Linked DNA regions of Homo sapiens. The protein of the gene in region 1 purifies or fractionates together with the protein of each later gene. This does not show direct contact. Each region holds a gene or a part of one and is shown in the gene's direction. Other genes may lie near its edges.

Region 1 (4,147 bases):
CAGCCTCCTCCTTGTCCCCGCCCTCAAATATCCTTCAGTGAGGACACCGGTGACCTTTGGGGGTGGAGAGGGAGGCGCCTACAAGCCCCTTCCCCTCTCTTCGGCCGGACACAAAGCGGGCTTTTCCACCTAGAGTCCCAGCGCTCTCACCTGCGCACCAGCCGTCGCGCCGCCCCAGGCCGCCACCGCCAGAGGCCCCAGAAACAGATCTCAAGCAGCCGCTGCTGCCGCGGATCCCGACAACCTTCGCGTCGCGCGAGGGCACGGAGCACGCGCAGCTCTGCGGTCGACGCCGGGCCGCCCCCACTCCGCTTCTCCGGGTTTTCCGTGAAGCTCCAGCCAACAGCGGCCGTCACCGGAAAAAACGGGGAGCGAAGTTTATTCAGCGTATATTCCAGCAAATTGTTGAAACTGAAATTTTAAAAGAACGCATAAAATTTAAATAACATATCAAAATGGCACAGCTTCTGCCTTTTGGTGAGCGCTTGACAATGATTTATTGAATGAAAGAAAGAAATAGTCCACTGCGCTCTGCTCTCTGTCCTGACATGACCAATTACAAAGCGCTTGGATTTGTCGCTCAGCGCCAGTATCCCGCCTCTCTGTGCGGTTGTCTGGAAAATCAGGATTTTTACTCTCCCGTAACTCCCGGGATCGGGTTTGGAAAACGGACATGCGCCGTGAGAGCTAGTTGCCTTCTACTAAAGCATCCGCCCTCAGTCCTTCCTGAGGGCTTACAGGGAAGTGCGGAGTTTCGCAGCTCGTACTCTTCACAGATTAGATAATTCACCCGGCATTTCCCCATCCTGCTTCTGGGTTCCAGGACAAAACTTTTATTCTCTTTTAACATTAAAAAACATATAGGAAGTTATGTTCAAACATGGCTATTTTTATTAAAATTTATCCGGCACTGTGAAAGCTACCTTTCCTTTCTCACAATCTTTCGCACCGAATATATGTTCCATTCTTGAGCTAGTCATTTTCCAATGTTAAGAAAACACACCACAGAAAAGCGTTTTTTTTTCTCTCGGTCAGTTCAACTGCCTAGCACCGTGAGTTACCATGATACGTTATTTGCTAATGAGAGTCATTGGGGTCCCAGCCTTTAAAAATAGCCTGCGTCCGGCGCCATTTTTGTTTTGGGCCCACTTTGAAAGCCGCGATATTCTGAACAGAGGCCATTTTTCTTTTGGGCAGATTCCACGGGCCATCGAAGTGTTTCGCTGCCATCTTAAATCCTGGCTGTGGCCTCAATCCTGCAGCGAAGCTGCCCAGATCATTTTGTGTTTGGGCGGCGGCTGAGTTCCCAAACGCGCGCGGAGACCCTGGGAAGGAGGAAGTAAGCGCGAAAGTGCTTCCCTTAAGCTTCTGAAGGTTGGCTGCAGTTCCGGCTACCTGTGTAGTCCGAGTTTCCACAGCCAGGTACTACTCCGCCAGTGACCCTGGACAGTAACAAAACATATAAAGCCCGAGCCCAAACCCCGCCACCATCATAGGTAAGCACATGGACCTCTGACAACCTCAGATGTTCCTTCAAGTGAACTGAACTGTTTGCCCATCTCCTCCCTCCTGGTTTTTGGCTTTGATTTTTTGAGACTTTTCCGAATCCTTCTCCCTGTACTTCCACCTTTCTTCATTGTTTTCAAAAAGCCAAAAAGTTGCTAAACATCAGGATGCCATGAGCATGGGCATTACGGTGGAGATATTATTCAGGAAAGTTAACTGTCTTTGCACAAAGGGAATGCAGTAGATGGGCCAGGTATTTGTATCAAATCATGGCTACCTGCATCCAGCAGTACAAATACCTCCCCCTTCCCAGACATTTTTGGAGATGTGAGGTAAATACAGATTGCGTTTGTATATACTTCCCATTCATTCATTTATTCATTGCATTTCTTGAGTACCTAATTTGTGCTAGGCCATAAGGATTCAGGAGTTAGCTAAAAAAAATCCATTAACTCATGGAGCCTACATTTTATCACCTTGACATCTACTAGGTTGAGACAAATAACAGTATTTTATGGTTCTTAGCACTGCTAGACTGTATAAACAAGTATTTGCTTTCTCCTTCCCCTGAACTATTTTTTTTTATTTTTAGTTTTTAATTTTTTTGGCCGGGTGTAGGAATTAATGGTATTGACACTTACTTCTTGGATCCTAGACATAACGATATTTGTAAGCCAGTTGGCTAGCGTTAAAACTAATATTCCAGTTACTTAGGGCCTTGTTGCTCCAAGTTCATTTCACCTACCACCAGCATCAGCATCCCTGGGAGCTTGTTAGAATTACACTTCATGACTCTCACCCCAGAGCTGCTGAATCAGAATCTTCCTCAAGAAGTGTACCTTAAAGTTCAAGGAACATTGATTCAGGGCATGGGCTAAAGATACAGCCCTTTCTTTCTTTCTTTTTTTTTTTAGATGGAGTCTCGCTCTGTTGCCCAGGTTGGAGTGCAGTGGCGCGATCTTGGCTCACTGCCATCTCCGCCCCCCGGGTTCAAGCAATTCTCCTGCCTCAGCGTTCCCAGTAGCTGGGATTACAGGCGCGCGCCACCACCCCCGGCTAATTTTTGTATTTTTAGTAGAGACAGGGTTCGCCATGTTGGCCGGGTTGTTCTCGAACTCCTGACCTCAGGTGATCCACCCGCCTTGGCCTCCAAAGTCCTGGGATCACAGGCCTGAGACATCACGCCCGGCCTGGCCCATTCTTTGTTCAACCCGTGCTTCTTAACTAGATTCACAGTGTATTATCAATTTATTGCATGTTCTAAATGCAATGGATATTTGACAGGTTTTTTTCTGTGCTTTTAGTTCATTGACTTGATGTTAGGGCGTCAATTTAGCTTTCCAAAAAGTTGAAAAGAGATTTTGTCATCCCAATATACTTATATGTAATTTCTGTTATAACATCTGAAATGTAGGGTTTTCTCTGTAAGTCTTAGCATCCAATTTACCACTGGTTTGCGTTTTTTTTTTAAAAGTTGTTTACTGTGCTTCTTGCTTTCTCATATCTTGTATGCATATTTGTACTTTTAATTTGTTAAAAGTTGAACTCAAAAGTTTGCATGTGGACAGCAGTTCAATACTGACTTGGAAAACCTTGGGCCTTGGTTTACCAAAGCTTTTTGTGGCACCTTGCTTTCTTCTGTCTTCCCATTTTATTTTACTTCTTTTATTTTTATTTTTTGAGACAGGGTATAACCCTGTTGCCCAGGCTGAAGTGCAGTGGTGGGATCATAGCTCACTGTAACCTCCAACTCTTGGGCTCAAGCGATCCTTCTGCCTTGGTCTGTCAAAGTGCAGGAAAGCAGGCATGAGCGACTGCACCCAGCTGCCTTCTGTCTTTCTTTAATGAGAAGACTAAATCAAGAGTTCTCAGCCTTGGCTGCACGTAACAATCACCTGGGAGCTTTAAAAACAGACTCCAGCCCTGTATCTGCAGAGATTGAGACCCTCTGGATGAAATTAAAGAGCCAGTAAGGAGTATGAGAAAACAGAAACAACTTTTACGTTTTATGTTGCTATGTTAGATTTTCTCTCCCTTATGGTGTTACTTAAAATAATCGGGATTTTGAAAACCATGAAAAGATCTGGATTAAGAATGTAAGGAACCAGCTTCCCAGTAACTGGTCAACTTGCCAATTATTTGCTCTGTGTCCTAAGAAAGTTGTCCAGCCTTTCTGCTTCTCCTCCCTCCATCTATTAATTGGGAAAAGAAAATAAAGCCACTGTTGTTTTTTATTTAGTTTCATGTGGTGTTGCCAATTGTAGTGAATGTTTATATTCTGTGAGTGTGAGAAAGAAAAGTATTTTACAAGTACAATATTCATTGCTTCTAGTATTAACATACCTCATATTGTGTGTGGCAGTAGAACATGATGGGTTAGGAAATTAACTCTAGAGCTAGACTCCCTGGGTTCAAATTCTAGCTCCTCTACTAATCAGCTTTGTGACCTTGATCAGATAACTTATCCCTTCACTACCTCAGTTTCCTCATCTGTAAGATAGGGTTGATGTGAACGTTAGATAAATTCATACAAGAAAAATGCTTGTCATAGTGCCCGGCACATAGTCACAGCCATGTAAATATTAATTAACTATTGTTAAATTTTATGATAATTAAATTTCTGGGCTTTAAGGTTTTGTTT
Region 2 (2,621 bases), on another chromosome or scaffold:
TGGGGGTAGTGGGAGTGGTGCATGCAATCACAGGGCGCACTGTCTATGGAGAATTTAAAGCAATAAAGCTAAAAGCTGCCTGTAGTCCAGCTATTCAGGAGGCTGAGGTGGGAGGATCACTTGAGGTCAGGAGCTGGAGAACAGCCTAGGTGACATAGTGAGGCCCCGTCTCTACAAAAACAAATAACAAAAAACTAATAGCTGGCCTGCTTTTTATTATCACTATATGCTGCTCATTCTATACAATGTCAGTGATAAAATACTTTTCCCCTTGCAGGAGAGGGAGAGAGGGGCATTCCCACTGCTTCCTTTCCTGGTATGCCATGGACCCCTTGCCCCTTCTTGCAGCCAGCACTTAACAAGGGGGTCAGGGAGTCAGGGAGGCAAAAGAACTTTGAAGGCCCTGAGAACAAGAAAAGAGCACCCTGGCCTGTGGGGGCATCTGGTGGGCAGCTGAGATGGGGCTCCCAGGATGGGCCCAACGATCCTAGAAGAAAAAGTAGGGACCTGGATGGAATGTGGGGTGGACGGGCTGCTGGGATGCCTACTGGATGACTCCGAGTCCAGCTACAGTACTGCCATTGTCACCAGCGTGCCACCCCCTGTGCCACGTGCAGGTTATAATCAATTGGCAAGCACATTGAATGACTGATTCCTGAGCCTTCACCTCACCCCCCTCCCTCACCCCCGCCCACATTCTGTACTAAGAACACAGAAATCATATTCTCCTGGCTCTCCAGCAAGAGCTGCCCGGCCCAGGCTCCACTAGGCCAAGACTTATTAGGCAATCTGTACTCTGCCCTGTCCCTGCCTGAGCTCTACTCTCACAGTGATCACCTCTCTCTCCTTTGCAGGAGCCTGGCTCAACCCGTCAGTGATTCAAGTAAGACTCAAGGTCCTGTAGCCACAGAGCCAGACAAGGATCAAGGTTCTGTGGTCCCAGGCCTTCTGAAAGGTCAAGGTCCTATGGTGCAAGAGCCTCTGAAGAAGCAAGGTTCTGTGGTCCCAGGGCCTCCAAAGGATCTAGGTCCCATGATCCCATTACCAGTCAAGGATCAAGATCACACGGTCCCTGAGCCTTTAAAGAATGAAAGCCCTGTTATCTCAGCACCAGTCAAGGACCAAGGTCCCTCGGTCCCAGTTCCTCCAAAGAATCAAAGTCCTATGGTTCCAGCAAAAGTTAAGGATCAAGGCTCTGTGGTACCAGAGTCTCTAAAGGATCAAGGTCCTAGGATTCCTGAGCCTGTGAAGAATCAAGCTCCTATGGTCCCAGCACCTGTCAAGGATGAAGGTCCCATGGTCTCAGCATCTGTCAAGGATCAAGGTCCCATGGTCTCAGCACCTGTCAAGGATCAAGGTCCCATAGTCCCAGCACCTGTCAAGGGTGAAGGTCCCATAGTCCCAGCACCTGTCAAGGATGAAGGTCCCATGGTCTCAGCACCTATCAAGGATCAAGATCCCATGGTCCCAGAGCATCCGAAGGATGAAAGTGCCATGGCCACAGCACCCATAAAGAATCAAGGTTCCATGGTCTCTGAGCCTGTAAAGAATCAAGGTTTAGTGGTCTCAGGGCCAGTCAAGGATCAAGATGTTGTAGTCCCAGAGCATGCAAAGGTTCACGATTCTGCAGTTGTGGCACCTGTAAAGAATCAAGGTCCTGTGGTCCCCGAGTCCGTGAAGAATCAAGACCCCATTCTCCCAGTACTAGTTAAGGATCAAGGCCCCACAGTCCTACAGCCTCCAAAGAATCAAGGTCGTATAGTCCCTGAACCTCTGAAGAATCAAGTTCCTATAGTCCCAGTGCCTCTGAAGGATCAAGATCCTCTGGTGCCAGTACCAGCAAAGGACCAAGGTCCTGCAGTCCCTGAACCTCTGAAGACTCAAGGTCCCAGGGACCCTCAGCTACCTACTGTCTCACCTCTACCCCGAGTCATGATCCCAACTGCCCCCCATACGGAATACATTGAGAGCTCCCCTTGACACTCACCCCTTGACACACCAATGAAGGAGCTGACAGTGAGAGTGCTCCCCTCCCAGGGGCAGTGAAGACACATATTTAATCTGCATGAAACATGTACAGTAGTCTTGCTGGAATCTAATAAAAATGGTCCCTCTGGCTCAGCAATGTTTCTCTCTGTCTCTGTTGGGCAGGGGTGCATACATGTGTATAGGTGGGCCTGTCAGGCTCTGCATTCACCCGTCTGGACCAGAGGGGTCTGAGAAGCACCAGTTCCTGTGAGTTGTCAGCATGAGATGGGAGTGGGTAGGCGATGCTAGATGGAAACAGGACCCCATCACGGAGGTGGGCAGGATAAGGCAAGGGTCAGATACCATGACAGCCTCACAAGAGGTGCCAAATCCCAGCAGGCTGAGCCCTGGGTAGCTGAGTTGAAGCCTGCAGATGAAACAGGAGCAGGGACCCACCTGGCACAGGGGAATTCTGGATGACAGTTGTTTGCCAAGAGCTCAGCCTTAAAGCTCATCCAGGGGTCAAACTTCTTGAGGAAACCAGGCTCTGATCATAAGTCTCAGGACACTGTATAACCTAACACCTGCTAATCCTCATTCAATATCCATGACAGCTCAACTGAGAGCTTCTAAAGAATATACCTAGAGCCAGG
Region 3 (4,035 bases), on another chromosome or scaffold:
CAGAAGCCCATCTCTGGGCAGCACTGAGTGGAAGGAGAAACCACAGGAGAGGAGAGGAAGTGTGGGGCGCGGGACCACCGTGGGGTGGGTGGGGGCCAAGCCGCCGGGCTGTGAGGCCTCAGCACCCCCTGCCCAGCACCCAGCACCCCAACTTCCCCTTCTGCCTTTGCGGATTCCAGGGCCTGCTGGACACCTGGGGCAGGGACAGAGCCGGGACTGGGGGAGGAGCTCAGCTGCACTAGAGTCCGGCTGGAAGAGTCCCGCTGAAAGTCACCAGAGGCACCCCTTCCTCCTGGGGGGCTGCGCCTCGGCCTCCTCCAGGGCAGGTGCCCCTGTGCCCCTGAAGTCCCAGCACCCAGCACCACAGAACCGCCCTGTCGTCTCGGCCCCGGAACCTTGTGGGGAGCCAACTCCTGCGGAGGGCCCGGCAGCCCCGGGCGGAATGAGCCCCCTCCGCAAAGCCTGTCTGGGGAGCGGGGGAGGGGCGGCAGGTGCCCGGAGAAAGGCGAGATTGGAAGAGCGGCCGGGATGGTGGCGCTGCACACGGGCGACCTGCAGGGAGAACGGAAGCTGAGGCCGGGGTCAGGGGTGCGCGCTCCGCTCCTCCACTCCTGCGTGAAGGGCGGCCCACTCCCGAGCAGCTGCGCTGGGCGCCCGGCACGGACCCGTCTCCCTGCTCAGGTCGATCCCCGGCCGCGCTGTCCCCACCTGGAAGCCCAGTCCCCTGGGTGCGCCCCGCCTTGGGGTCCGAGCACCCTCACAGCCCGGCCCTGCCGCTTCCCTGCACCGTCTGCGGCTCCTTAAAGAACTGGGCGCGGTCGGGGCTCGCCCCGCACTGTCCTCGAGGCCCCGCCGCCAACCCACCCCACCCCAGGAGGCCGCGGCCGCGCTCATCCATCCCCCGCCGCACCGTCAACGCGCGTCCTGCGGGGCGCAGAGATCGGGGTCCGGTCGTCCCCGGGGGGCCCCAGAGACAGGTGAGGGGCCTCGCTGCCACTGCCCAGCGGTTCCCACGGCCCGCAGGTCCGCCGCGCCCTGCGCTGAGCGGATACCTGGCGGCCGGCGGAGCCTCAGCGGAGCCGGTCTTGTAAGGCTGAGGTCTCAGTGCGCCCGCGCATGCTCCGGGCCTGGTGGGGCGGCGGGGGCGGGGCTGCCAATGAACACGAGGGGCGGGCGCGGGACGCTGGGGGCGGGGCTGGGGGCGGGGCGGGGCGGCAGGGGGAGCGCTGCGCTGAGCACTTGGTCGCGCGCGGCCGGGTCGCGGGGGAGCCTCCGCTGCAGTTGCTGCGTCTCCAAGGTAAGCGGGCGCGGGGCTCGGTCCTGCGGGCGCGGCGCGGGGGGCACCCGGGGGCGGAGACTGGGCCCGTCAGCCCCAGCAGCCACCTGCGCCGCAGCCCCTGCCCCCCGCGCTCCCCCGAGCCACATTCCCGGGCCGCCCTGCGCGTCCCTGAGCCCCCGGATTGGGATGCCCGGAGTTCGGCGCTGCGGGCTCGGTGCGAGGACGCGACGGGGAGGCTTTGCAAAGGCCGCGAGCGGGGGTCACCGTCGGCCGCGCCAGGGACAGGTCTGTCACTTTCTCCGGGCCCTGTGCCTGGCGCTTTGGCCTTTCTTCGCGGCCACGGACGCCCCTGCAGCCCTTCCCTCCAGACCCTGCCCAGCCCGGGGCTGGAACCGTTTCCCTATTCCCAGGCGTAGGGGGCCGCCGGTGTGAGGCGTGGGAAATTAGGGCGTGGAGGGCTGGAATGAAGCCACTGCCCGCAGCACGTTTTGAGATCCCTGGCCACAGAAACGGCCCAGAATGAGCGGGTCTCGGGGTCCTGACACCACCGCGTCCTGGCAGGTGGGGCTGTCAGACCGCCCCCCGCAGAGCCTCCAGCTGCCCCGGGCCTTGGCTACTGTCCGCGGGCCTGTGGCGATGGAGAGGCGCTGCCGGGACACCTTCCCGCACCCCTGGGAGCAGCGCCCGAGGATCTGAGGAGCCCTTTATTCTGCGGTTTCGGTTACGTAAACGGAGCCGAGGGAGGTGAGAAGCCTGTCCCTCCCGGGCAGTGGCGGGGCTGCTGTTTTGATAAGCGTTTAGGGGGGCTGCTGTCTTGATGGGGCTTGGGGGGCTGCTGTTTTGATGGGGTTTGGGAGGCTGCTGTTTTGATGGGGTTTAGGGGGCTGCTGTTTTGATGGGGTTTGGGGGCTGCTGTTTTGATGGGTATTTGGGGGCTGCTGTTTTGATGGGGGTTGGGGGCTGCTGTTTTGATGGGGGTTTGGGCGCTGCTGTTTTGATAGGGGTTTGGGGGCTGCTGTTTTGATGGGGGTTGGGGGCTATTGTTTTGATGGGGGTTGGGGGGCTGCTGTTTTGATGGGGTGTTGCGTTCCCTCTCAGTGTCACCGCTGATCCACCTGGCATGTTTATTGGCTCTTCTGCGTGCAGGGCCCCTGGGGGACCGATAGAGGACTGGGCCCCTCCGCCCACCCCGGCCACCCCTCCCCGCCTGACTTCTCAGGGGGAGAGGTCTCCCCCCACGCCCAGCCAGCCCCTGCCCCTGGGAGGTGACCCAGCTCCCTGTGGCCTGGGACTAGGAGATGGGGCTGGACCAAGGCCGGGAAGGGGCAGGAAGTGGAGGGGAGTGAGGCAGCTGCAGCCTGATGCCGGCGCCTTGAACTGGGCTCTCGCGCCTGTCAGCCGCTCGGTGCCAGCGCCTCCCCACCACGTGATCCTCGGAGGGCCTGTGGGGGAGGGGCGGGCTCCCGGAGCGGCTGCAGAAGGCGAGCTCCAGGAGGGTGTGTGCGTTTTCCCGGGAGGGGTCTGCAGCTTTCATGGTTTCTAAAGGGATCTCTGATTCAGAAAGGCGCCGGCATGAACTCGCTTTGCATCTTCACAAAACATGAAGTCATGGGGATTGGACCGCGTGTGCGTGGAGGAAGCTCCGCTGGTCACTGGCTGCGTTTTAATCTTACAGCTGCGGTTGGTCTATCTTCCCGAATTCCCTGAAGTTGCAATAAATGTTTTAGCGATTATACGAGGTTATAAATGCTCGTTGTGGAAATGAGCATAGAATGCTCACAGAAATGGTCAACAGGGGCTTCCTTTTGACCCCCTACCCTAATTTGCAAGCCTCACACTGGCAGTGGCTGCCCTAGGCCTGGGAATCGGTAAACAGGGTTCGTGCACCGGGCTGGGCAGGGCCCGGAGGGAGGGGCCGCAGGGGGCTTCCGTGGGCACAAAGGCCAAAGCGCCACACGCAGGGCTCAGGAGAACTTCCTGAAGAAAATTAGGATCACCCATCGCAGATGGAGACTGGGGAGCTCTCTGGAGAGTCAGGCAGTCTGTTCCCTCCCAGGCCTGTGGGAGCCACCCCCTGCAGAGGACGCAGAGAATTAAAAGCTTCCTCGGGAGAGGCCGTGCCAGCAGAGAGCCGAGTCTATTTATAGCTGTTGGTGAGACAGGGGGAGTGTGTGAGAGGGATGCCATCTGGGGCTCTTGGGGCCCCCAGGCCAGTGCTGGTCAGCGCCCTGCAGTACCTGGCCCAGCCTGGTGCCCTCAGGCAGAAGCGCCTTCGGGAAAACACTCTGGGTGAGGAGAGTCGCTCAATGCCTCCGCCTGGGCTGGGGGAGCCAGAAGGCTATGCCCAGGAGGGTTGTGGCCGGGTGTCTAGTCCATCTGAGCCCACAAACCCTCAGCCAGGAGCCAGGATCAGGCAGCAGAATCTACACACGCCTAGTTCCTACTGCTCGAGCAAAAGGTGTTTCCTGGGAAGGAAGGGGTGGAGCTGCCTGGGTCAGGCCCAGCCACATCTGGGGCTCAGGCCTTGTCCCCAGCATCCACGAGCCAAACCCCAAGCTGCCCTGCGTGGATCCTCCTCCTAGGGAGACCAGCTTCTTCTTGGTGTGTGTGTGTTTGGGGTTGCCACAGGGCCATAACCCACTGCATCCCCCTGATAAGATCTTCCACCCAGGGCAGCCCCCACCCAGGGCAGCCCCCACCCAGTTGATCCCCCACCCAGATGATCCTCCACCCAGATGATCCCCCACCCAGATGAT
Region 4 (3,500 bases), on another chromosome or scaffold:
CTAGTAAATGTGGGCTCTAGGTGGTACCATGTGTCTCTAGAAAACAAATAAATGGGAGATGGAGAGGATGAAGTAGGCAGAATTATTTGCCATATGTGGATGTTGTTGAATGAATGAATAATATAATAGTAAAACAGAGCTGGGCTTCAATAATAAGAGAAAATTTCTTTTAAATATATTTAAATATATCCTAATTTTAAAAATAAGTTTATTATAGAACTCTGAAAAGCAGACAATTACAAAGTAAATAAGCATCATTTATAGATTGTCATATAAATTTTGATATACCTTTAAATATTTTTATGTGCTTATACAAGTCTATATATAGAGATATGTGATCATATGGTTTGTACAGTTTTGCATCCTACTATTCTCAGTTACCATTGTATTGTGTTTGTTTTTCTATGCCATTAAAATGCTACAAACATTTTAATGACTATAAAACACTTTATCTCAAGGATTTGTCGAAATTTATTTACTTTTTCCTCTATTGCTTGGACATGTAGGTTTTTTTCAGTATTTTTGAATATTGTAAGTCAGGTTGCAATGAATGAATGCATATATCCTAGCTTGCATTTTGGATTACTGTATCAGGAGAGAATCTTAGAAGTGAGAGTATTGTGTAATTGATTTTTTACTTTATCTAAGAATATTAATGCATGCTAATTCTAGCCAAACTATAAAAGAAAAACTGAAAGCATAAAGAGCAAAGTTGCAGACAAATCTAGAATGAACATTCTATAAGGCAACTGGTCTAGTCTCTTCAAGAAGTCAATACCATCAATAAGGGGATTAGAGACATAACAAATGAAATGTGCAAATTTTGATTGATTCTGCTTGTAAAAATAGCTTTAGGAGACATTTTGGAGATAATTGCAAAATTCTTGATATAGACTGGATATTAGATGTTATTAGGGAATTTTCTTAGGTGGAATAATGGCATTATAGCGACATAGGAGATGCGTGCTAATATCATGATGTTTGTATTCTACTTCCAAGTGATTCAACAAAAGCAAACAAACAAAAACTGTATGTATGTGTGTGTAGATGTATATACACATAGAGTAGATAAATAAAGATGGCAAAATGTTAGCAATAGACTCTAGGTGATAGGTTGATCATTGCACTATTTTTTAAAGTTTTCTGTATATTTGAAAATTTGAAAAGTAAGAAATAATGAATGAATAAGGAAAGGTAGGTTAAAACCATCCTAAATTATAGCCCCTTGTTATAAGCTATACTAGAAATATCCTTCCATATGTTTCTTTGAATGTTTTTATAAACCTTTCTTCAGAATATATTTTTAAGTTGGGGAATTGCTATATCAGAGGCTATGTACATTAAAATTTTTGGTACCTACACCCAAATTACTCTCTGGAAAGATTTGCAGTCCTATCAGTTTAGAGTTCCATTAGCAGTACCTGAGGAGGACTCCTTTTCTTACAACCTCATCAGCACTGGGGAAATCTTTTTAATCTTGTCAAAATGACAGTCTTGTAGGCAAACGACAGCATCAACAAAACTCACTGTTGTTTTGATTTACATTTGTTTGATTATTTCATGTTGAACATTCAGTATTTATTGCATATATTATTCTACTTGTGCATATGAACCTTTTAAAGAAATAGCTTTGTCTACATTTTGGTGTACTTTTTTTTTTTCAAATTTTGTCTATATTTTTTTTCAAGTGTTATTCCCTTTTACATTTACACTCTTTATAGGTGAGTGAGTAGGGTAGGTGCCATCTAAACCACTTCTTACCATCATGCATTATTACAATTTGTAAAATCTTTGCTAAATTAATTTGTAAAAAAGTTATCTAGCTATTTTCAATTGTACTTCTTTGATTACTGATGGCATGAAAATTTGAAAAAGGTCTGTGCATTGCTTGACCATGTCTTGTGTCCATTTTAGAAATTACAGCCTTAGTGTTTTATATATATATGTATATATATACATACATACATAACATATACACACCCACATGTACATAATACATATTAAAAGAAAAAAATTAAATAATCAGAGCTGTTCAAAGATGACATGGACTATAATGGCAGGTAGTGAGTCCCCCATCACTGGAGAGTTTTAAGCAGAAGTAGGGATGTAAGAGCAGATTAATGTATGTTTTCAAGTGAGAGATGTTCCAAATAAGTCTTAAAGTCCATTTTTAGTCCCAAAGTCCTATGATTTTGGAAAACTGAAACATAGGGAAGATTAAATTGCTGCATTTCATATAGCAAGTAATGGAAGAACGAGAAAATAAACTCATCTCTTGACTCCTTGACCAGAGTTCTCCTCATTATTCAATATTCCATGTTGCTGCTACTGCTGCTCCAAAATGCCTTTGTAGTTCATAATCTTTATTTCACTGTTTGGAGCTGATGATTCTCATTCTAGTCAATCTAAGTAATGAGTCCCATATTTTCACTACAGGCTCATCTTACCCTGGCTTGGTTGCCAAGCCCTTTGAGAAAGTAACATACCGCTGGACAGTCCCCCCTCATGCCGGTCCCACTGCTCAGGATCCTGCTTGTCTCACTTGGATGTACTTCTCTGCTGCAGATCCCATAAGAGACACAAATTCTGGCCTGGTGGGCCCGCTGCTGGTGTGCAGGGCTGGTGCCTTGGGTGCAGATGGCAAGCAGGTATTGTCAGGGTTATCTGGCTGGAAAGCCTGCTGGGAGAAGGATGAAGCTGGGTTGCTGGATAGGAGTTAAGCATGGAACTGGGTTCTAAAGTTTAGGGAATAGAAGAAAAATAATCAAGCTGGTCCATCAGAAATTAATAGTTGGTGACCTCATACTATCTTGCATGTTATTTTTTGTACTGACAAATATATATCTTCCTTAGCCTTGCAGATAATTCATGATATCCTTTCATCATCTTCTTCTTTCCTCCCTCCTTCCCTCCCTCCCTCTCTCTCCCTTTCCCTCTCCCCCTCTCCCTTTCCCTCTCCCTCACCTCGGTGGCCCCTAAACCTTGCTCCTGATCCATAAATCTGCTTTAATATTTGCTTGTCTTCTTTTGTATTCAGCCCACAATTTCTAGCTGTGTAACATTGGGTGAGCTACTTAACTTCTCTTTGACTCCGTTTCCTCATTTGTAAAAATGGGATAACGATGGAAGAAGACACCTTGGATTTCTGTGAAGATTAATTAAAATAACCCATATAAAGTGCCTAGCACAGTGTCTGGCACATATTAAGCACTCAGTAAATGTTAGTGGTAACAATAATTATCACTGATATTACTTATCTTTTATTTTCTAGTTTCCCCCCAAGACCCTCCCCTGCTTTTCTAGCCACCTCCCCTCATTCCTCTCCCCAGGTGATTACCATCTCTCTTCTTTTACACTCTATACCTCTTATTTCTTATCCTATGCTCCTTCCCTGCCCACTTTCATACAGTCTTCCCTGTCAGGCTTGTACTTTTATTGTGACATTCTTCTCTCATCTGCAATTTGAGGTTACCTAAGGAAAAACTGCTGCAGCTCTGGAT
Region 5 (3,500 bases), on another chromosome or scaffold:
AGACCCTCCGGAACCGTGTTTGGCTCCTCTCTTTCGGCTCAGTCTCGGTGGAGTTTCCTTATCAGTATGACTTTTCTCGAACTCTAGATGAGGCTGTGGGAGTTCAGAAGTGGCTGAAGGGACTACATCAAGGGACTCGTGCTTGGGCCTCTCCAAGCCCTGTCCCACTCCCACCTGATCTACTCTTAAAGGTTGAGCACTTCTCATGGGTTTTCTTGGATGATGTTTTTGAGGTGAAACTTCATGATAACTACGAGCTGATGAAGGATGAAAGTAAGGAGAGTGCCAAAAGACTACAGCTACTGGATGCTAAAGTGGCCGCCCTTCGGAAGCAGCATGGGGAGTTGTTGCCTGCCCGCAAAATTGAGGAGCTCTATGCCTCTTTGGAACGCAAAAACATTGAAATCTACATCCAGCGTTCCCGTCGTCTCTATGGCAACACACCCATGCGCCGGGCACTGCTTACTTGGAGCTTAGCAGGGCTAGAACTGGTAGCTCTGGCAGATGCCTCCTTCCATGGTCCTGAGCATGTGGTAGAACAGGTTCAAGAGCTTGATCCAGGCAGCCCTTTTCCCCCTGAGGGATTAGATCTTGTCATTCAGTGGTGTCGAATGCTCAAGTGCAATGTCAAGAGCTTTCTGGGTAAGTAGTGTTTCCTTTATTTGCAGACCCCGTGTTTGCCCGCTGAGCTCTGGGGAGCTCTCAGTGATTTCAGAGGAACTAGGTTATATTGGGAACTGTGCCGTTTTGGGTGGGTGGAGTGGGATGGGTGGGCTTCCCTTCCCTTTCTTTGTTCCTGAATTTCACCGTGAAATTGCTTGGCTAACATAAAGGGAAAGCTAACACAGTCATCTTTAAGGTTATTGTGTCTCTTGGATCTCAGTGCTATGCCCTTAACCACCTGCTCCAGGGTCACTGTCATTTTTCAGCTTGCTGTGTCAACTGCCTGCCCTTGTTCTCTCAATTGACTTTGTAAATATAGATGGGTAAAATAGTGGTGAGGAAAAAGATAGGCCCGAGAGTGCTCAGACTGCCCCTGAGTAGCCAGTGTGTACCCTTCCTCTGGTAACAGTTCGGATCAGGGACTATCCACGGTACCTGTTTGAGATCCGTGACTGGCGGCTAATGGGTCGACTTGTGGGCACCGAGCAGAGTGGTCAGCCTTGCTCCCGTCGGCGTCAGATCTTGCACTTGGGGCTTCCGTGGGGTAACGTGGCAGTGGAGAGGAACATGCCCCCACTCAAATTCTACCATGACTTTCACTGTGAGTAGAGATGAGGCAGTTGGTTTGGCTGAGGGACGTTTGTGATGGGTGAAATGGGAGGTGAGCTGAGACCCTTCTGGAGTGAAGGAGGAAGAGAGGGGTAATGTTGTGAACAAGTTATAGCCTTTGTTCCTCTACCCCAGCGGAAATATTCCAGTACACAGTGGTGTGGGGCCCATGCTGGGATCCAGCCTGGACACTAATTGGCCAGTGTGTGGACCTCTTGACCAAGCCCTCAGCTGACCCCAGCCCACCTTTGCCCTGGTGGGACAAGAGCCGTCTTCTGTTCCATGGAGACTGGCACATGGACATTGAACAGGCGAACCTGCACCAGCTGGCCACTGAGGTGAGGGGTGTCATGATACTTTTATCCTATCAGGATGGTATGGTTGAGGTCTGTATAGCACATGTGGGAAGAGAGACAGGTGCTGATTTGGGAGATGAGGATGGTTTTCTTACCTATATCTCACCAAATTCTCGGGGGTGGTCATAGGATCCATACAACACAACTGAAAATATGCACTGGGAGTGGAGCCACCTGTCTTTTCATTGGAAACCTGGTCAGTTTGTGTTCAAGGGTGACTTGGATATCAACGTGAGAACAGCCTCTAAGTGAGTGGAGTGAAGGGAGGGTCCTCCATGGGATGAGGGGCTCAGGTTGGAGGGAGGGGGAAGAGCCAAGGGGAAGTGAGTGACCAGGGCACTGAGGGCTGGGGTTCCATTGTGAGGCAGGTATGACGACTGCTGCTTCCTTCACCTGCCTGACCTCTGCATGACACTGGACCTGCAGTGGCTGTGCCATGGGAACCCCCATGATCACCATAGTGTCACTCTGCGGGCCCCAGAGTTCCTGCCTGAGGTGCCCTTGGGCCAGCTTCATGACTCCTACCGGGCCTTTCGCTCGGAGAACCTCAATCTCTCCATCAAGATGGATCTGACTCGGCACAGTGGAAGTGAGGCTTGGGCCTGGGGCAGTGGGGAGGAAGGGCTTGGGAGGACGGGCATGGATGCTGGGGACTTTAGCTTGACCCTCTGGGGAGGGGAGGGGAGGGGAGAAGGGCAAGGGAGAATCTAGGTTAGGACCTTTTTTTTTGTTTTTTGGCAGGGGAAAGGGTTGGTGTCTTAGTCCTTTTTGGCTGCTATAACAGTAATACCACAAGTTTGGTAGCTTATAAACAACAAGCGTTTATCTCTCACAGTTCTGGAGGCTTGAAAGTCGAAGATCAAAAAGAGCTGATAGATTCAGTGTCAGTGAGGGCCCATTCCTCATAGATGGTGCCTTTTTGCTGTGTCCTAATATGGTGGAAGGAGTCAGTGAGCTCCCTTGGACCACTTTTAAAAGGGCACTAATCCTATTCATGAAGGCTCCACCGTCATGATCTAGTGACCTCCCAGAGGCCCACCTCTTAACATCATTACCTTAGGGGTATTTCAGCATGAATTTTGGGGAGATGCAAACATTTAGACCATAGCAGTAGGGGAAAGCAGAGAGCTTAGATCCTTGAAAGAAGAGGGAGTTGGGGATGCTGAATGTGAGGCTAGGTGCTGTTTGGATTTTGGATTTTTAAACCTCTACAACCTGCAGCAAGGGAAGGATTTAGCTTTACCTCTGTGTTTCATCCATAACTAGGAAATGTCTGTCTTTCTCTTTGCAGCAATATCCCAGCCCCGAATTCTGCTATATAGTAGTACCCTGCGCTGGATGCAAAACTTCTGGGCAACTTGGACAAGTGTCACAAGGCCTATCTGCAGGGGAAAGCTCTTCAATAACCTGAAACCCAGCAAGAAGAAACTTGGTCAGCACTACAAGCAACTTTCCTATACAGCCCTCTTTCCCCAGCTGCAGGTAAGGCACTGATGTCCCTGCTGACATCTTCACTTTATTCTGCTTCTAGTTTTCTTGTTTCTCATATTGAGTCCCTTAATCATCCCTCTCATGCCATCCTTTGTTAATGTTATGCTCTCTTGTTGCCAGGTACATTATTGGGCCTCATTTGCCCAGCAACGGGGCATCCAGATTGAGTGCAGTCAGGGCCATGTCTTCACTCGGGGGACTCAGCGGCTTATACCTCAAGGTAAAATGAAAGACTCCTTTCATTTCTCCTATCCTGTTCCTTGTTTTTCCCTTCTCAGTTCCATTCCCCTCCTCCATCTCTGTCTTACACTATCCTCTGAACTGGTCAGCATGGTCTCTGTGTGCCTCTTTTTCTCAGCAGGCACAGTGATGCGGCGCCTT
Region 6 (3,500 bases), on another chromosome or scaffold:
CAAAAAAGTTCAGTGAGTCATGGCCACAAACCCTCCACCTAGATCCACCAATTGTGTTTTGACACGCTTGGTTTTTATGAGCAAGCCTCCTACGAATGAGAGTGTTCCTGAGAGCCACACAGCCTCATCACCACAAAAGAGGTGACGCCACGACTCACCAGGGTCCGTCTTGGCCCCTTGCTGTCCAGGGAACAACCCGTGCCGCTGATTTGTGTTCCTGGTTGAGGGTCCGGTGCTGTGTGTATATAGTTGTGATGTCTTTCTAGTCTTTAATTGAGAAGGTTCTGCCTCTTTGTTGTGGTTGTTGCTGCTTTGTGGCATTTTTGACGAGTTCAGGTCAGCTGACCATCCCACACGCTGGATTTGTCTGCTTCCTCACAGTTGGGCTTGGGTTGAGCCTGTGGCTGAGAGTAGCCTCTGGGTGGCAGTGTCCTCTGCTCTCCCATCCGGGGCCTGCAGTGGGACACTATGTCAGATCCCCGGAGATGGTGTCTTTTTTCCTTTGTAATTAATGAATAATCCAGTGGTGACACTGAGCATGTCCTGGTGAGCTGTGTGACTCCTGCCTGATAATGGTGGTTTTTCTAGCCTGTCCTTTCCTTTCACGTTTATTGGTTGGCGTTCTGAGAAGAGCCGCCTTTTCTCCCATCACTTAGTGTGCAGTGTGCTACCTGTCACCTGTCTGTCACCTGTCAGTCACTGTCACCTGTCACTGTCACTGTCACCTGTCACTGTCCATCTTTTTGATGCTTGACGGTTCCACCTTTGGCCGGTGGCCACCTCAGTCTGGTGGTGTCTTTTGCCGTGTTCTGGCGTTTTTCGTTTATGTTTTGAGCCCTCCCTTATGTTCTGGGTTAAGCAGATGCTGCAGGCACCTCTGAACATTCCCTGCCTGGCCCTGGAATCAGCCTGGCTCCTCTGAGTGGGGAGTGGTGTTGAGAAACCTCGATCTAGACGCCGGGCATGCTCCATGCTCCCGGAGTGTCTTCTCCCATCACCGCACCCTCCGGTTGATGTGTCCTCCGGACCATTGACTCACGGGTGTGTGTAGGCAGAAGGGGTGGAAGCGAGGAAAGGCGTTGCTGAGGAGGCCCGGAGGGAGCGGGTTCTGGCTGTGCTGGCACTAGCCAGGCTGGCAGGCTGCGTGGGTACTTCTGTGATTTTCCTCTCAAGTGCACGTGGCTTTTTCTTGCACTGTTTCGTGTGTGTGCTTTATTTCACAATAAAACTCTTGAATTAAGTATGCATAGAAACTATTTCTTTTTTCTCTGGGTGGCAAGATTATGAAAAAATTTTCTTACGCTTTTCTATATTTTCCAAGTTTGAATTTCACTGTAAGCACCTGGCTTTGTACCGCCCTTTTTCTGTTACACAGTCATCATTTGCTTGCTTGTTGTGGGAGCACTTTTGCACAGGTCTGCTTGGTTAGTGAAAGCATGTCTCCCTTTCTAGGAAGGTTGTGCAGGACCAGCGTTCCCTGTGCAGGCGCCACTGCGTTTCCTGCAGATTCCGACCGGCACTGCAACGGATTCCCTGCCGGAGCTGAGGTCACCAACAGGCCGTCGCCATGGAGACCCCTGGTACTTCTCATTCCCCTGCGCCTGGGGCTCACGGACATCAACGAGGCCTACGTGGAGACGCTGAAGGTGGGTCCTGCCGTGCGGCGCTTGCCCTGAGTCCCCGTCCCCTTCTCCCAGTTCTTAGTCACTTTCAGCGCATCGTCGTCACGTGGCCATTTGTGCAGCCGGCTCTCGGGGGAGGGGTAAACAACCCTGGTTTACACCGTTGCCCAAGGGGTGAGTGGGCGTGAGGCACGTCCATCAGTAGGCACGTGCTGCTTTCGTTCTGCAAGTGTCAAGGCGAGTGTCGAGGATGAAAGCATGAGGCGCTTGCAGGGGGTCCTTGGAACCAGGTGCCACTCCTCGGCCTGACGGGGAGCCCCGCCCCCTCCCGGGTCTCCACTGTGCCCCAGGCATGCCCACCCCACTCCCCCACAGCCCTCTTGGCCTGAGGTCCCTTCGGAGGGTGGGTTGGCCTGTGAGGAAGGGACGTGTGGGCAGGGCCTGGGGATGGGCAGGGCTGTGTGAGGAGCTCCAGCCACAGGCTCCCCCATGTCATGAAAGCAAAAGGGGGCGGGGAGCGGTGGCTCATGACTGTAATCCCAGCACTTTGGGAGGGCAAAGCGGGCAGATCACGAGGTCAGGAGTCTGAGACCAGCCTGGCCAACATGGTGAAACCCTGTCTCTACTAAAAATATAAAAATTAGCCGGGCATGGTGGTGCGCGCCTGTAGTCCCAGCTACACAGGAGGCTGAGGCAGGAGAATCTCTTGAACCCAGGAGGCGGAGCTTGCAGTGACCCGAGATCATGCCATTGCACTCCATCCTGGGTGACAGAGTGAGACTCCATCTCAAATAAAAAAAAAAAAAAAGCAAGCAGAAGGGAAAACCATCCTTTCTTCAGGTAACTCAAATTTTAGACCAAGGAGTCACATTTGTATGGAACTGAAATGTGGCTTCCTGTTAAAATTATTCAGTTGTCTGAACTTGGCCCCTCCGTCCAGCCTTCTGCCCATCCTGTGGGGTCTCAGCTGCCCCCACACATAGGCCCCGTCTCCATCGCTTCTGCCCTGTCAGGTCAAAGCACTCAGCAGGGCCACCTCCCGCACCCCTGCTCACATCTCCTGCCAGGCCCCCTCACTCCCGGCCTCCCCAAAGCCCACCTCTGACATGAAGCTTCCCTGAGCTGAGCCTGCAGATTGGGTTTCTTGTGCCTGTGGGATGTCCTGTGGTCTTTCCTGGACAGTAAGCTCTTTGGTACCATGTCCCCTCCTGTCCCCTCTTGTGTCACCCAGTTGGGCCTCAGCAGGCCCTTGGGCCCCCTATGGCAGTGGGTGGGGGGACCGTCTGCTCCCACCTGGGACCTGTGCTCAGTCCCCCGCCCCTCCACAGCACTGCTTCATGATGCCCCAGTCCCTGGGCGTCATCGGAGGGAAGCCCAACAGCGCCCACTACTTCATCGGCTACGTTGGTGAGTCCAGGGTTCCCACCGTGTCCCTGTGGGCCTGGGCCTTTTAAGGGCATTCCATGAGCAGGTACCACACCCCAGGTGACCACTTGAGGCCACTGGTGGAAAAGCAGCATGCCCTGGGGTTCATTTTCAGCCTGGTCGCGGGCGGCCTCCTGTGTGCCCCTTTCCCTGATGGTCTGGTGCCCTCGGCTCCCTCCCCACCTCCTGCCCACTGCTTCTCAGTGTGATGTGGGTGCAGTGGGTCTGAAATGCGGCCTCCTCTGTCCCTTTCCTCTGCCGGCTCGGCCACCCACCTGCCCACCTGCCTCATCCTCCCAGGTGAGGAGCTCATCTACCTGGACCCCCACACCACGCAGCCAGCCGTGGAGCCCACTGATGGCTGCTTCATCCCGGACGAGAGCTTCCACTGCCAGCACCCGCCGTGCCGCATGAGCATCGCGGAGCTTGACCCGTCCATCGCTGTGGTACGTG

The links.
Region 2: the proteins of SLX4IP (region 1) and MAP6 purify together in Homo sapiens (affinity purification with mass spectrometry, with the first as the bait; one large-scale study listed by BioGRID). This does not show direct contact.
Region 3: the proteins of SLX4IP (region 1) and ZDHHC11B purify together in Homo sapiens (affinity purification with mass spectrometry, with the first as the bait; one large-scale study listed by BioGRID). This does not show direct contact.
Region 4: the proteins of SLX4IP (region 1) and HEPH purify together in Homo sapiens (affinity purification with mass spectrometry, with the first as the bait; one large-scale study listed by BioGRID). This does not show direct contact.
Region 5: the proteins of SLX4IP (region 1) and BLTP2 purify together in Homo sapiens (affinity purification with mass spectrometry, with the first as the bait; one large-scale study listed by BioGRID). This does not show direct contact.
Region 6: the proteins of SLX4IP (region 1) and ATG4B purify together in Homo sapiens (co-immunoprecipitation; one large-scale study listed by IntAct). This does not show direct contact.

Annotation. Positions count from the first base shown.
Region 1 is NC_000020.11:10,433,958-10,438,104, forward strand, and holds the start of SLX4IP (protein SLX4IP), read left to right. Parts: upstream 1-1,347; 5' UTR 1,348-1,496; intron 1,497-4,147.
Region 2 is NC_000011.10:75,586,418-75,589,038, reverse strand, and holds the end of MAP6 (microtubule-associated protein 6), read left to right. Parts: intron 1-854; coding exon 855-1,980; 3' UTR 1,981-2,121; downstream 2,122-2,621. UniProt on the Homo sapiens protein: Involved in microtubule stabilization in many cell types, including neuronal cells. Specifically has microtubule cold stabilizing activity.
Region 3 is NC_000005.10:781,930-785,964, reverse strand, and holds the start of ZDHHC11B (probable palmitoyltransferase ZDHHC11B), read left to right. Parts: upstream 1-1,235; 5' UTR 1,236-1,297; exon of another isoform or gene 1,298-2,023; intron 2,024-4,035. UniProt on the Homo sapiens protein: Probable palmitoyltransferase that could catalyze the addition of palmitate onto various protein substrates and be involved in a variety of cellular processes. May play a role in cell proliferation.
Region 4 is NC_000023.11:66,195,247-66,198,746, forward strand, and holds part of HEPH (hephaestin isoform a precursor), read left to right. Parts: intron 1-2,436; coding exon 2,437-2,648; intron 2,649-3,500. UniProt on the Homo sapiens protein: Plasma membrane ferroxidase that mediates the extracellular conversion of ferrous/Fe(2+) iron into its ferric/Fe(3+) form.
Region 5 is NC_000017.11:28,631,659-28,635,158, reverse strand, and holds part of BLTP2 (bridge-like lipid transfer protein family member 2 isoform 1 precursor), read left to right. Parts: coding exon 1-642; intron 643-1,072; coding exon 1,073-1,264; intron 1,265-1,407; coding exon 1,408-1,610; intron 1,611-1,757; coding exon 1,758-1,876; intron 1,877-1,996; coding exon 1,997-2,217; intron 2,218-2,919; coding exon 2,920-3,110; intron 3,111-3,239; coding exon 3,240-3,339; intron 3,340-3,477; coding exon 3,478-3,500. UniProt on the Homo sapiens protein: Tube-forming lipid transport protein which binds to phosphatidylinositols and affects phosphatidylinositol-4,5-bisphosphate (PtdIns-4,5-P2) distribution.
Region 6 is NC_000002.12:241,665,193-241,668,692, forward strand, and holds part of ATG4B (cysteine protease ATG4B), read left to right. Parts: intron 1-1,452; coding exon 1,453-1,646; intron 1,647-2,950; coding exon 2,951-3,029; intron 3,030-3,347; coding exon 3,348-3,493; intron 3,494-3,500. UniProt on the Homo sapiens protein: Cysteine protease that plays a key role in autophagy by mediating both proteolytic activation and delipidation of ATG8 family proteins. Required for canonical autophagy (macroautophagy), non-canonical autophagy as well as for mitophagy.